Linked DNA regions of Homo sapiens: region 1 is linked to region 2. Evidence: fine-mapped expression QTL. Tissue or cell type: whole blood. Region 2 holds a variant in brackets; the other region holds the start of a gene. All regions are shown on one strand. Distances are between the middles of the regions.

Evidence for each region. PIP is the estimated chance that this variant, and not a neighbour inherited with it, causes the effect.
Region 1: ATAD1 starts here. The variant in region 2 is fine-mapped to the expression of ATAD1 in whole blood (TOPMed, PIP 0.93).

What each region holds. Positions count from the first base shown.
Region 1 is chr10:87,814,702-87,822,982 of GRCh38, reverse strand. ATAD1 (ATPase family AAA domain containing 1) reads left to right here and starts at 4,757. Exons shown (of 10, transcript NM_001321967.2): 1 at 4,757-4,816. It also overlaps the pseudogene CFL1P1. RefSeq lists a silencer at 4,610-4,659.
Region 2 is chr10:87,730,884-87,738,883 of GRCh38, reverse strand. The region is part of intron 9 of PAPSS2 (3'-phosphoadenosine 5'-phosphosulfate synthase 2); the gene reads right to left. Among named protein-coding and RNA genes, the nearest start is that of PAPSS2, 75 kb to the right of the region's middle. The variant C/A (reference allele first, on the strand shown) is at 4,505.

The DNA.
Region 1 (8,281 bases), 84 kb before region 2:
CTTATTTTTATTTTTTAGTTTAGCTTTTTTTTCATTTTTTAAAAAAGTTTATGGGTACATAGTAGGTGTGTGTATCTATGGATTACATGATATATGCTGATACAGGCATACAATGTGTTATAATCACATCAGGGTAAATGAGGTATCCATTACCTCAAGCATTTATCATTTCTTTGTTACAGACATTCCAATTATACTCTTTTAGTTATTTAAAAATGCACAATAAATTACTGTTGACTGTAGTCACCTTGCTGTGTTGTCAAATACTAGATCTTATTTTTTCTATCTAACTGTATTTTTGTACCCATTACCATTCTCACTTCCCTCCTACCCCCCACCACTATTCTTCCCAGCCTCTGATAACCATCATTCTACCCTCTATCTCCATGAGTTCAACTGTTTTAATTTTTAGCTCCCACAAATGAGTGAGAACATGCAAAGTTTGTCTTTCTGTGCCTGGCTTATTTCACTCAACATAATGTCCTACAGTTCTGTCCATGTTGTTGCAAATGACAGGATCTCATTTTTTTAAATGGCTGAATAGTACTCCATTGTGTTCTATATTATCTTTCTATTGGAGCTTCAAGTACAGCTTCAGGTATAGCTTCATATTCTTGCTTTACTTTTCTTTCTCCATCCATTCTACTTAATTTACCTTGTCAAAATAATGGTTCATATGATTCAGAAGACATGATTTAAAAAATTAAAAAATAATGATTGAAATTATCCTTTTATGATATTTTTAAAAGAACAAAGGTAACCAAGTGAATTATACTGGCATAATTACTGTTATATAATTTTACCTATTTGTTGAAGTTCTATTCTTTCTAAATCATTGTCAAGTGAATTACTTCTAATGAGCAATGAATAGAGTCAGGTTTACTGTGTTTACTTATTCAAAGATTTCAGATTTGTTTTTCCTTCCAAAGGCGTTCTATCCTGAATCTCATCATGAGGCTTCCTTGCCTTGATTTCTTGATGTATTCCAGCTGGGTTAATGGTTCAGCTGACCAGATAGGCCTTTTAGGCTAAGGTAGTAGAGATTTTTGCAAAAATACATCTACAGTCTTCATTCACTAGGGCAGAATTTCTCAAAATAGAGTCCAAAACTACCTATATCCCAATCAGCTCAGATGTTTGTTTACTGATTTACTGATAGGCTTAAACAACAGAAATTTATTTCTCCCAGTTCTGGAGGGTGGGAAATCCAATATACTGGCATATACTCTGTCTGGTGAGGGTATCCTTCCTGGCTTGCAGACAGACACCTTCCTGCATCCTCACATGGCGGAGAGCCCAGATGCTTACTGTAAAATGCAGATTTCTAGGCCAAAACCTACAGTAGTTGAACGGGAGTCTCTGAAGACTGGGAGCCAGGAATCTGCATTTTGCCAAGTTGTCCAAGTTAATCTATATACAGTGAAATTTGAGAACACCTAATTTTTTTTTTTGAGATGGAATCTCACTCTGTTGTCCAGGCTGGAGTGCAGTGGCATGATCTTGGCTCACTGCAACCTCTGCCTCCTGGATTCAAGTGATTCTCCTGCCTCAGCCTCCCAAGTAACTGGGATTACAGGTGCCCGCCACCACACCCAGCTAATTTTTGTATTTTTTTTTAGTAGAAACAAGGTTTCACCATGTTGGCCAGGCTGGTCTTGAACTCCTCACCTCAGGTGATCCACCTGCCTCGGCCTCCCAAAGTGCTGGGATTACAAGCGTGAGCCACTGCGCCCAGCCAAGAACACCTAATTTAAGGAATCCTTTCTTCCCACCAGGTGTCTAGTGCATTAACCTTGATTGCAGAGCAAACTAGCTACACTCCATTTAATAACAAAAGTGGAAAATTCAGCACCTTGGAGGAGAACTGCCATAACTATTTTAAGAGTTACTGATACAGAAAACACACACACACAAAACCCAAAAACTTTCTAGAATAAAGTAATAATTCTTTTTAATATCTTGATTCTAACAAAGAGCAAAGGCCCAGAAAGTCTACAGTCTGCTCTAATTTCCTGATTAATATTATATATATTGAATTATTTATTGAGCCCCTACTGTGGGCCAAATATGGTATTTTGTGTTGCCAGGGATTATATAAAGCTATCCTGGAATGAAAAGCATATGTTCACTCTGCTGTATTCTGGAAGAATCTCATTGATTTGATGATTGCTGAAAATGAATGTACTTGATGTCTTAGGCCCAGACATGGAAGGTTTCTTACGGATTTGCTAAATGAAAATATTAGGTCCAAAACATATAGGTGTAGGCATTTGGTTTCCAGTGGCTGAACCACTGGAAAGGGAGTGAGGTGTAGCACTTTTCGAGCTTGTAGACTCTTTATGGTCAGCCTCGTGACTTTATTCAACAGTTTCCCTTCCTGTGCAATCATCCCTCAAATATTAGGCAGATGAATTGAGACTAGATGTAACCATACTGGGAACTCCATTTCATTGTAGGATTCATTTAGGATGTCTCTAGTAGAGTGACTCATGATTTGCCTGAGACTTTGTCAGCCAGTTTTATATCCCAGCAAACCTTTTAGTCTCATGCAAACTGAAACTGGGTAGGCTGGTCACCCTGGTCCTTAGAAGAGGGCAGGTGAGGCTCTTAGTTGAACCAATTTCACTCAGTAAATGAATGAAAATCCATTACTATCTTGAATTTCTCAGCTCATTTTCCTTACCAGTGGATATAATTACCCTATTGGGGCACAAAACCTGTTTCTTGCCTTTAGTGACCCTCCCCCTTTTAGCCCTGCCAAACCATGTGTCCATGAGCCTCCCAAGCAATGATTCAGCTTGGGATCATCCAAGGACCCAGTGGAGAGTCTCTTGAAAGTCTGCTGAGCACTGATAGCCTCTGTTTTTTGTTGTTGTTGTTGTTGTTTGTTTTTAATGAACATTGTCCTCGTCTCATAATCTTTCCGTTCTTCTCAAAGGTCTATCTCTCTAAATAGTCTAGTAATCCCAAACCTAGCTTCACATCCATTTTTTTTTTAAATTAGGAATGTAGGCATGCACGTATATAAAGCCTTAAATACTAAACAGGCACGGGTGTATTCAATTCCATTCTGATTCCTGTCCATGAACTTAATCATAGTTTTCAACATTCATGCATCCCTTTCATCCCATCCTTTAAAGCCTTGTGATTTTGGCATTTCATGGTCTTACTTTCAACTAGATTTTAAAGTTTAGCTGGTATTAAATTACCATCTCAAAGAGAAAACGTAAAGTACAAGGTATGAATTAGACAGACCTATGTTCCAATGAAATTGTTGCCTTTATTTCCCAAGTATATGAACTTAGAAAAGTTTCTCTAAGGTTTAAGCTTTAAAATTTGCTCATTTGTAAAAACGGAGAAAATGATAGCTATTTTAGAGGATTTTGGGGGAGATATTTAGGTTATGCATGTAAAGCACATAGAAGCTTATTGCCCCACCCCAGCAGACATTAACTAGGTATTATCTTCACCACATTATTACAAGTTTGTAACTAGTAACATTCGTTAACAATCAGGCTGCAAAATTGTTATTATTATTGAGACAGGGGCTTGCTCTGTCGCCCAGGCTGGAGTGGAGTGGCTTGATCACTGCAGCCGTGATCTCCCACGCTCAAGCGATTCTCCCACCTCAGCCTCCCAAGTAGCTGGGACTACAGACATGCGCCACCAAATCCAGCTAATTTTTAGGTGGTTTTTTTTTTTTTTTTTTTTTTTTTTTTGTAGAGACGATTTCTCATTATGTTGTCCAGGCTGGTCTCGAATTCCTGACCTCAAGTGATCCTCTCGCTTCGGCCTCCCAAAGTGTTGGGATTACAGGCGTAAGCCACCGCGCTGGCCAAGCTGCAGAATTCTTTAGCCATCAAAGATGATGCCTCAAGTAGAAAGGCACAAGCTGCCTTCCTGAGGAACACAGGGAGAACTCTCATTACATCATAGTCTCACCGACTCTGTCTGAAGGAAGTGATGCTTCTCGTATCTCAGGAGTGTCTAATGTCATCTGGCCCACCGGCAGTTTGTGTATTCAGGAGGCTCTGGCTTTCAGGTTTGCTCCCTTGGGACCTCTTGTGTCACGTCGCTCGTTCTGGAAAGGAAAAGGGGTGAAAGAAAAAGGGAAATCACCAAAATGCAAAATCTGTTACCAGATGCCCTATTCCGTCCTAACTACCGAGTCTGGTGGCGTGGGCTGCTAAATCTTTTCGCGGAAAGATTGTCAGGCGCCACCCCGAGGTGTTTGTCAGCACAGAGATGGGGGAGAAGGGTGAGCTCACCCGAGAATTGAAAGGCAGGTGGTGAGGGATGAGGGGTGAGGAGTGGAGGGTGGCCATAAGCTTCTGCGTTTTGGCTAAAGTACAGACACAAAGCCGCGGCGTGAGGGTTTGCACAGAGTGGTGGGAAGGAGAGAATGTATTTGCTGGGTACGCAGAGCATTTCTGCACTCTCAAGAAGGCTGCCCGATTTGTCAGGGTTGCGCCCCGAGCCCGCGAGAAGGGCAGGGACTTTTTGTGATAAGCGCCTTCCCAAAGGTAGTGTCTGTTAAACGCAGAGCCTTAGCGAGTGCTGCTCGCAGACACGCCGGCTTCGCAGAAAGTCTCAGTCTAGCAGGTAGCTTAAGCAGACATCAGGTGCGCGAATTTGCTCTCCCTCACTGTTTCTAAGCCTGGGAGCACGCCCCCTCCGCGCCGGCGACCGCGGGTCGCGCATGCTCCGTGGGAGGGAGTGCGCCGCGCCTCCCGCCGGAAGCGTTCTCTCCCAGGTTGCGTTTCCTTCCTGTGTGAGGCCGGCTGAGGGCACTTGCTCTTGCTGTTTCTGCCCCTGGGTGAGTAGCTGGTTCCCGTGGGGCCTCATGGGATGGTTGTCGTATCCTTCTGAGGTCCTTTAAGGACCGTCTCGGACCTGGGAACCCCCGGAGGAAAGGTCACCCCGGTCTTCTCCCACGCCCTACCTCAGTGCCGCCCCCAAGCGCCCCGCAGCCCTTAGTATCTAGAGGATTAACCTCCAAGGGCGTCCCGGGCCTCGCCTTGGCGTCCGGCCCGGCCTGGGCCCTTAGGGTCTGCTTAGCTCTTCCCCAAGACTCGTGCCATTCCCGAGGGAATCTTTGTCGGCATCCTGGTCACTGTGGGGGTTTGAGGTCGTCCCGGAAGACTTCAGAACCAGGCGAACCTAGACGAAGGCGGCTGGAATGAACCAGGTCTGATTGTCGCACAGGCGCGGCCACCACCTTGTGCAAAATCGAAGGTGGTTCTTCAGGGCCGGGCACGCTTTCACAAAAGATGGTGATGTTAATAATAACCTGCCCTCTTTGTGAAGATTGGCAGGCCTTCATTGTCATAGGCTGTATTCGTAGGGCCTTTATGCCTGCAAAACTGGGACTTTTGAGTTTGAGAAACGATTTGTGAAATACTGCAATGAATTAGGAGAGAAATACTACAGTGAATGCTATGCTATGAATGCTATACATGTCAATAAATTGCTCATAGATGAGGTAGTACGATTTCACGGTTTTCCACTCGGAAATGGAGAACTTAAAATGAAACGACCTGATACCATATTTGCCTAACAAATAACTCTAGGTTATAGTGTTTTAGGATGTTTCTTAGTTGCATACAGCACTATCATCGTATATGTACATATTTGTGTATTCATTTTGTTGAACCTAATGTTTATACAGGATTGAAATACGCTCCCTGCTGTTGTATGCGCATGCAGCTTTTATTGTATGTTCGCTGGTGATGGTATTGCTGCTGTAACAGCCTTACATTTTAGGTATATCAATACCAAATGAATGATACATGAGTGTACAATAAAGTATATATAGTTACAGTCTACAAAACAAGTTTCAGTTTCATTGAAGGATTTTGAAGTAATTTAAAAAGGTAGACTACTATTTTACAAGTGGCCTTAGTAGACCTAAGTCTTTATTACATTAAAAATTTCAGAATTGGGAAGGATATAAACGGGTTTTGTGTGTTGACCTTTTATGGGATTAAAAGTTGTTACTATCTTGATGACTGGGATGTGTTCATAACAGCCCTAATTTGTTCATGTAGTTCAATGAATATCCAGTAGATGACTTGGTTGGTAGTTTTATCACTACCAACTCTAAAACGAAAACGTTTTACTGGAATGCCACCGCTTTTCACAGATTAGGTTAATAAAACCCTTATCTTGTCTAAATTATTTTCCTCTGTGAGTATACCCCACGTAGTGATATAACACGTTTCAACTGCATTTTCAACTTTGTGGAATAAAGACTAGAAAAGTCAGTTTTTTACTTCCTATGAGAAGTGAAATATTGTGTAACCCGTTTTTTTTGGAATCCATGCTGATGGAAGATAGCACACTTTGGTTTGTTCCATGAAGAGAGATTTCAGTTAGGTGCCTTCTCCTTTTTGGCTTCTTTTGCTTTCTTTATAATTAATATAATAGCCGGACAGTGTGTTCTTTGAATGAAGTGGTGATATCTTAACAATTATTGTATATCCAATATATAGTGGGCGTCATATATAGATGTTCAGTAAATGCAAATTGAATGAATTAAATCATTTACCATCCCTAGGCCAAAGTTTCTTCCTCCAAAATGAAGGCTTTCAATTATTTAGTTGTTAAGTTTAAATTAAATCTAATTATTGTGAAGTGAATGGCTCCTAGTGGAGAAATGTGGAACCTTTTGGAAATCCTTCAGAAGTGACTGTTGCAATGATTGAATGGGAGATTTCCTTCAGTTACAATTTATCTGTTGAACATAATTTTTGAATAGCCTCTGTTTTGTGTGTGGCAATTATAAACGTCTGTTTTGTGTGTGACAGTTATAAAGGTAGATAAGATATACATCTTGTTTATAAGGATTTAAACTCTAGTCGAGTAGATATCTCAAAAGCAAGACTTTTTTAAGATAGTGTAATAGGGCGAAATGAATAATACGAAGATTCATGTGATTTGAAAGGCTTTATGGAGCAAATAAAGTTGATTTTTGAAGTTAGGATAGAATTTGACTAATCCTAGGTGAATGAGGGTAAATGGCCCATGCAGGATACTAGACAGATACGCTGAAGGGAAAATATATGTGGGATTTTCAGATGGTAGTGACTCCAGCTATTTATAGAGTCCCTTTGAAAAGAGGTGAAAGAGAAAATGCTTACAATTGACTCTGGAGCTAGATTCTAGATTAGAATAGTTTTGAATGCTTGGGAAACGTATAAAGGAAATACTTTGGGGTCTTTTGATTAGAGAGAAGGAGTATATATCCTTGAGTGGAGGTGAGGGGTATAAAAGGAAATAAAAAATTTTTGGAGCTATTCTAGAGGGAGGAAGGTGAAGAGGCTCTTTAATTTAGTAGTAGTGAGAGGAGAATTTTAGAGCTGGAAGGACCATGGATATTAATCTTTGCAGTACCTAACTTTTATCTGCTGAGCCATACAAATTCTGTTTTTTTTCATGTTTATGTAAGTACAAATATATATTCTCTTTTTCTTATATATCCCATAGCATTCAGCACACTCCTGTGCTGAGAGTATAATGGCAGTATTTGAAGCTAAGATCCTATCTCCCAAAATGTGATAGTCATATCATCCCTAACAAGCTTATTCTTCCGGGTAGTTATTGCCATTGACAGAGGAGTGTATGTCTTCTGTAAGCCTAGCTTTGATTGATGTAGCTGTTCAGGGATATATGCAAAAATAGGCACATTTATCTCATTTTTTTTCTCTTTAGCTTGGGTGAGTGCTGTATTCTTGTAGTAGTTGTCTCAGTTCAAGATTTTTCCAAGTTCTATTGCTTCCTACTTAGCCCGGTTGTTGGGAACAATAGTGTGGCTCAAAAAAGTTAATACCACTTATTACTGAGGAAATGGCATGTTTAAATTTAAGCAGGCCTTGAAAACCTTTAAAAGTATGTATGAGGAAAAAGTGAGTCAGTTCACAATTTGAATTTCACTCAAAAATTACCTGGTATATGATACAGTTAATAGAAGAAATTCTTACCGTCACATTAGTATTGTTGGGCTGCCTTTCTTCAGTTGGATTAGTGTTATAGTTGATACTTTCCTAGACTCTGAAATAGTTCTTTAAAGCTGTTTTGAGTAAATACCTTAAGATATTTACTGTATTTTTCAAATAAAATGATTAATTCTACTACCAAATAAATCTTAATTTCTAGTCTACTTCTAGTTTGCAAGAGGAGCTTTAAATGTATTTGTTTACTTAACATTTAAAAATCCATTTCTCCTTAAAATGAAACACTTTTTTTAAGGTAGGTAATATTTTAATTTGACTAGAAGTTAGTT
Region 2 (8,000 bases):
AAAAATTAACCCAATTAAGAAATAGGCAAAGGACTTGAATAGACATAACTTGAGATGATCTACAAATGGCCAAAAGCATGTAAGATGCTCAGCATCATTAATTATGAGAAATGCAAATCAAAACTACAATGAGATATCATCTCCCATCCATTAGGATGGCCACTATTAAAAAACAGAAAATGGCTGGGCACAGTGGCTCACGCCTGTAATCCCAGCATGAGCCAAGTTGGGTGGATTGCTTAAGCCCAGAGTTTGAGACCAGCCTGGGCAACATGGTAAAACCCCATCTCTTCATAAAATATAAAAATTAATCTGGCATGGTGGTGCATGCCTGTAGTCCCAGCTACTCAGCAGGCTGAGGTGGGAGGATCACCTGAGCCTGGGAAGGTTGAGGCTGCAGTGAGCCATGATTGCGTCACTGCACTTCAGCCTGGGTGACAGAGACACACACACACACACACACACATACACACACACAGAAAAGAAAAAAAACAAGTGTTGGTGTTGGTGAGGATGTAGAAAAATAAAAATTGGAACCCTTGTACACTGTTAGTGGGATTGTAAAAGGTGCAACCACTATGGAAAACAGTATGGAGGTTCCTCAGTGAATTAAAAATGGAACTACCATATGATCCAGCAATCCTACTTATGGGTGTATATTCAAAGGAAATGAAAGAGTCTTGAAGAAATATTTGTATCCTCATGTTCACAGCAGCACTATTCAAATAGCCAAGAGGTGGAAGCAACCCAAATGTGCATAGATGGATGAATGGGTAAATAAAATGTGGTATACACATACAAGGGAAGATCATTCATCCTTTAAAAGGAAGGAAATCCTGTCACATGCTATAACATGGCTGAACCTTGAGGACATTAGGCTAAGTGAAATAAGCCAGTCACAAAAAAGCAAATATTACATGATTCCACTTATATGAGGTATCTAAATTTCTATGAATTCTAGTCGAATTCATAGAAACAGAGAGTGCAATGGTAGTTACCACGGGCTGGAGGAAGGATGGTAGTTACCAGGAGCTGGAGGAAAGAAGAAGAGGGGAGTTGTTTTTGTTTTTGTTTGAGGCAGGTCTCACTCTGTCACCAGGCTGGCATGCAGTAGCTCACTGCAGCCTCTACCTCCGGGGCTTATGCAGTTCTCCCACCTCAACCTCCCAAGTAGCTGGGACTACAAGCATGCCACCACACCTGGCTAATTTTAAAATTTTTTTTTTGTAGAGACAGGTTCTCACTATGATAACCAGATAGGTCTCAACTCCTGGGCTCAAGCAATCCTCCAACTTCGGCCTTCCAAAGTGTTGGGATTACAAGCGTGAGCCACCATGCCTGACCGCGGGAGTTGTTTAATGGGTGTAGAGTTTCCATTTTGCAAGATGACAAAGTTCTGGAGATTTGGTTCACAACAATGTGAATATGCTTAACATTACTGAGTTGCACACTTACAAGAAGGTTAAGATGATAATTTTTATGTTCTGTTTTTTACCTTAATTTTTTTTTTTAGAGGAACCACCGTTTTTTAACTCACTGAGGATTTATTTCACTGAGGTTAGAAGCAATCACTTTTCTATTCCCAGTCTCAGCTGAAAATGTGACTTCAGGAAAGGGTGGGTGTGAAGAGCACCTGGAGACCTGCAGAAGAACCATCTTCATAGTGTCCCACACATTAGATGGCCCAACTCTGGCCCCCTTTGGTTGTGTCTATCTCATAAAGGCAAGGAGACCCTTGGTGGGAAGACCCACCCAGAGTCATCACCTACTCTTTTGATCATAATCAGGGTACCCAGAACTCTAGAATTTCCTGCCCAATCAACTCTGAGCTTGCTGCTAGGCCTGGGAGAGCTTCATCTCCCAACCTGTCTTTCCAGGGTGGACCACACACTCAGAGCAGCCCTACTTCTGAGGGCGGGCCAAGCAGGGAGGGTCTGCAGAGGTTGTGGAGAGAGCTCAGCCATGCAGCCTGGGGTGCCCACAAATCAATCCAGAGGACCCACATAGCATAGGAAGAGGCCAAGCATAGAAGGAGAAGGGAGAGTTGGTGAAAGGCCAAGGGCCAACTCTCCACACACTACCATATTCTGATGCAGAACCCAGAAGTCTATATTTGAACCTGGCTTTCCAGTTTGTGATTAAGGCATAGTTGTCAAAGTAGAAGGATCAAACACATTTTATTTAGCAGTTTGTTAGTTACACATGTAACTTTTAAATATGATGTATGGCTCTCCATTTGTATTCTTGCTCTGGGCCCCACAAATGTTAGGGGTAAGCCAGGGTTGAAGAATGGTGAAACTAATGAAAAAGAAAAACATGGTCGGGCATGGTGGCTCACTCCTGTAATCCCAGTACTTTGAGAGGCTGAGGTGGGTGGATCATGAAGTCAGGAGTTCAAGACCAGCCTGGCCAATATGGTGAAACCCTGTCTCTACTAAAAATATAAAAAATAGCCAGGCCTGGTGGCGGGCACCTGTAATCCCAGCTACTCAGGAGGTTGAGGCAGGAGAATCACTTGAACCTGGGAGGCGGAGGTTGCAGTGAGCCGGGGTCTCGCCACTGCACTCCAGCCTGGGCAACAGAGTAAGACTCTGTCTCAAAAAAAAAAAAAAAAAAAAAAGAAAGAAAGAAAAGAAAAACATGGCAACCTTTGTTTTTTTTCTATAAGTTTAAATATTTTCCATCTGGTATTGAAGTATAATCAATTACAGAGCTGTGTCTCTCCTAGTCACTGACACAAATACTTACAGCCAATCTCATTCCTCAGTCAAACATGTAATGGTTTTACAATCCTCCCCCTAATCAAACCCCAAGTACCTTTCACCACTTTCCAAATACAACTTGGTTACCTGAAATGTTAGCAGAGAAGAGGGAGGCAAGAGTGAGTGAGAGAAAGCTGATTTGAAACACCTAGTAGGAAGACACGAAGATAGTGATGGTGGACCTGGTTCACAGTCCCCATTATGGCCAGATATTGGGGTTTACCATGACCTGCATTCCAGAGAGGTTCAGGGAGTGGGGGATTGGGATAGAGCAGTGGCTCTAAACAGAGGCTGATTTAGTCACTCCTGGTGACATTTGACAATATCTGAAGATAATTTTGATTGTGATGACTGAAGTGCTATTGGCATCTGGTGAACAGAGGCTAGGGATGCTACTAAATATCCTACATTGCACAGAACTGCCCTCTCAGTGAAGAATTATCTAGTCCAATATGTCAACAGTGCTGAGGCTGAGAAACCCTGCGGTAGACAGAAGGCAATTATGCAAGGTTTTCGGTTGTGTTTTCATGGCCTCTTTTCTAAACTCTGTGCTCAGTCAGATAATTCAACAAGAACATTTTCAAATATCCATACCTATACATCTACTTTCTCCTCATTGCTTAGAGTTGGACACAGCACAATTTTGAGAACTGACCTCCAAACCCCTGAGGATGCAGTAATTTATTCTGGACACTAGGGGTCCACCGTATATTGCTCTATCTATTGGTGAAGGGGGCATCAAACCGAATTCATCCACCATCCAGCCTAAAAACCTGTCTGTTTGAAGAGAGATGTTAAAACTATGTGTTTGGCATTTCTGGGATGGGGAGGGACAAGGGGCATCTCTATCCCTAAGGTGGTCCAATTATCGCCAGAACTGTGTCCAGCTGTCAGGAAGGGAGATCCAGAGGCTCTGCTTAATTTCCCAGGGCTTTGTGGCCTAGAAGTCCCCACCCCCTTCCAAGCTTCCTGCCAAAGACAGCAGGGGGGCCACAGCTAGAGGATTTGCAGAACTAGATGCGCCAAAAGGAATGGGGAGCAGGCTTCAGGAGCCCAGTGAAGTAGCAAATAGGGAATTGGGCTCAAAATTACACACAAGAATGCATAAAGGAGAGGATAAGCTCAACCACTAGCGTAAAGACTAAGAAAGCTATGATAAATAGGCTCAAAGAGGCCAAGGAGAGGAAGACTCAAAAGAAACAATCTGGAGATGAGGGAATGCACTAATTGGAAAGGGAGGAGCAGCTGAGGGTGGGAAGGTGAAAAAGAATGCAAAAAGGGAGCAGAGAGAAGGGAAAGAAACCAGAAAGAAGGAAGGAAATGGTGGATTCAGCAAGATAAGGTCATGATGAAAGGGTGCAGAGAACAGAATCAAAGAGAAGAAAAACTAATGCCTACAAGAGGAGAATACATACATATATATATATATATATATATATATATATATATATATATATACACACACATTCATTTCTGTGCTATCAGTCATAGTCACAGAATCTGGGGCTTTAAGGAACCTGGAGGTAATGTAGATTTAATGTCCTCATTTTCAGAAGAGAAGGCAGTTTTACAGAGGGGAAGTGGCAGAGTTCAAGTGCACAGAGCTTTCTTACCAAAGCCAAGACCCAAATCTCAGACTCCTGCAAACCAGATTCTTCTCATCACTGCACCCACTGCCTCTCATCAGTGGCCCCCATATTGACATTTCAGCTTCACCTGTCACAGGTATGAAAGGGGCAAGT[C/A]CAAATTACTCTGGGAGGACAAAGAAGGGGCACTCAGTTATGCTCATGTGTCATAGGAGTCAGTGCTGACTTCTGAAAGGAGGTAATAAGGTCCGGAGGCAGAGGTGGAAGAAACAGTGTGCCAGGTTGAAGGATGAGTATGTGCAAAAGTCAGAGAGCGCATGATCGAATGACCAGCTCTGGAAGGACTGGACGAGGGAGTGTGTTGGCTGGTGGTGGCAAGAGGCTTTGCGGTAAATTGTATCTTAATAAAGGGGTTTCCAAAGAAAAGTTGAATAATTCACTCTAGCTAAAGAGTGGGAGATTATGGGGGAGTAAGACAAGAGAGAGGAAAGAATTGAAATGTCCTGACCCAAGATGGAATAGAAGAGGAGTGAATGAATTCAAGCAATAACTGAAAGCTACATTTGGCAGGACGTGGTGACTGAATGGACAAGGGGAGAAGAGAGAAGCAAGAATGGCATCCAGGTTTTGGTCACAGGCCACCATTTGGATGGTGAAGCTGTCACTAAGATAGGAGACATAGTAGGGGGAACAGGCTTGGGGGGAGGTTAAACATGTTGAGTTTGAGGTACTTGCAGGATATATGCAGGTGGGGCCCTAAAGAAAATAGCTCCAAACAATTATCTAACTCAATAGTTCTCAACCTTCACAGCCCATTAGAATCACGGGGAGCTTTAACTACCCACCCCTCAATAATCAGATCTGACTCAAAGCCAATTAAATGAGAATCTGTGAGGATGGGATCCAGTCATGGGTGATTTGTAAAGCTCCTCAGGTGATTCTGTTGATATAACTAACCATATGGTTTTCATTGTGGAGCTAAAGGCTATAAACTCTCATTCCCATCTTTCATTGAGAAGTCATATTCTGTTCTCTTGGTTTGTACAAGAAAATGTAGAGTGCAAAACAGGAGTAATGATTCTTACTTTCCTCACCAAGAGCATTGTGAAAAATAATTACTACTTGACAAATCTCTGGGAGCCATGGACGAAAGGCAACAAAGCCCCAGCAAGCATTAGTTTTACAAGTTTCACCTGCTCCTCCTGATGATTTCATTTGAGCGCATGTCACACGGTTCTATACTTAGTGATGCCAAAGAGAGGGCTGGATGCCTTGAATGGAAGGTCAAGAATGACGTTGGAGATAAGCTCTGTAACAAAGGCAGACCATTTCCTAGTGACTCTATTTTCCTTGCAAATATCACTCCCAGTGCCACATGGAAATAGAATAAGGCCCAGGATTCCCGCAGAAGTAATTACTTTTGGAAGCTGTGGGGTTCTAAAAACCTGTGTTAAAGTGTTTTTGTGGGTTTCAGAGTGCTAAAAAAGGACACAGCAAAAAGAATTATTTTGCCAATAAAACTTGTGTGTTTGGTACATGCGACAATCTTCAACAATCTTCATCAATCTCTCTCACTTTTGCACAAAATGTCTGCAGGGTGAGTGGCTTTCTCTCTCTGGTTATCCAAGGCTCATTTCTCACCATTAGCTCCCTGGGAATGTTTATCGAGTCCCCCTAATAACCTAAAGGTATAGAATCACTGAAAATATTGTCAAAGACACAAGTCATGCCACCATTCTCCTTGGCTTCTAAGAAATTCTAAAATTCTGAGTTCCATCTGCCAGCATGCATTGTAAGGCATGATGAAAAAAATACAGGCATACCTGAGAAACATTGCAGGTTCAGTTCCAGACTACTGCAATAAAGTGAATATTGTAATAAACGGAGTCACACAAATTTTTTGGTTTCCCAGTGCATTTTAAAAGTTATGTTTACACTATACTGTAGTCTATGAAGTGTGCAATGGCATTATGTCTTTAAAATGTAATATTATCTAAACTTTTTTTTTTTTTGAGAAAGGGTCTCACTCCTATAGCCCAGGTTGGAGTGCACTGATACAATCACAGCTCACTGCAGCCTCGACTTCCCAGGCTCAGGTGATCCTCCCACCTCAGCCTCCTGAGTAGCTGGTACTACAGGTGTGCACCACTATGCCCAGCTAATTTTTTGTATTTTTAGCAGGGAGAGGGTTTCGCCATGTTGCCAAGGCTGATCTCAAACTCCTGGGCTGAAACAATCGGCCTCCCAAAGTGTTGGGATTACAGGGTGAGCCACCGCGCCCAGCCTATCTTAATTTAAAAATACCTTTTTGCTAAAAATGTTAATGATCCTCTGAGCCTTCAGAGAGTTGTAATCATTCTCCTGGTGGAGAGTCTTGTGTTAATAGCTGCTGACAAATCAGGGTGATGGTTGCTAAAGTCTGGGGTGGCTGTGGCAATTTATTAAAATAAGACAACAATGAAGTTGGTCATATCAATTGACTCTTTCTTTCATGAAAGATTTCTCTGTAGCATGAGATGCTGTTTGATAGCATTTTACGCATGGTAGAACTTCCTTCAAAATTGGAGTCAATCCTCTCACAGGCTGCCACTGCTTTATCAACTAAGCTTACATAATATTCTGAATACTTTGTTGCCATTTCAAGAGAATCTTCACCAGGAGTAGATTCTATCTCAAAAAAACGATTTATTTGCTCATTCATAGGAAGCAACTCCTCATCCTTTCAAATTCTATCATGAGATTGCAACAATTCAGTTACTTCTTCAGGCTCCACTTCTAATTCTAGTTCTCTTGCTATTTCCACCACGTCTGCAGTTACTTCCTCTACTGAAGTCTTGAACCCCTCAAAGTCATCCATGAAGGATGAAATCAACTTCTTCCAAACTCCCATTAGTGTTGATATTTAACCTCTTCCCACGAATTGCAAATGTTCTTGATGGCATCCAGAATGGTGAATCCCTTCCAGAAGGTTTTCAGTTTACTTTGCCCACATTCATCTGAGGAATCACCATCTAGAGCAGCTATACCCTTACAAAATGTATTTCTTAAACAATAAGACCTGAAAGTTGAAATTACTCTTTGATCCGTGGGCTGCAGAATGGATGGTGTTATGCATGAAAACAAATTAATCTCCTTATACATCTTCCTCAGAGTTCTTGGGTAACTAGGTGCACTGTCAATTAGCAGTGATATTTTGAAATGAATCTTTTTTTGAGCAGTCGGTCTCAATAGTGGGCTTAAAATATTCAGTAAACCACGCTGTAAACAGATGTGCTATCATCCAGGCTTTGTTTTTCCATTTATAGAGCACAGGAAGAATAAATTCAGCATAATCCTTAAGGACCCTAGGATTTTCAGAATGGCCAATGAGCACTGGCTTCAACTTAAAGTCACCAGCTATACTAGCTCCTAACAGGAGAGTTAGCCTGTCCTTTGAAGCTTTGAAGCCAGGCATTGACTTCTCTTCTTTAGCTCTGAAAATCCTAGGTGGCATCTTCTTCCAATAGAAGGCTGTTTCTTCTACACTGAAAATCTGTTGTTAGTGTAGCCACCTACATCAATGATCTTAGCTAGATCTTCTGGGTAACTTGCTGCAGCTCCTACATCAGCACTTGCTGCATCACCTTGTACTTTTATGTTATGGAGATGGCTT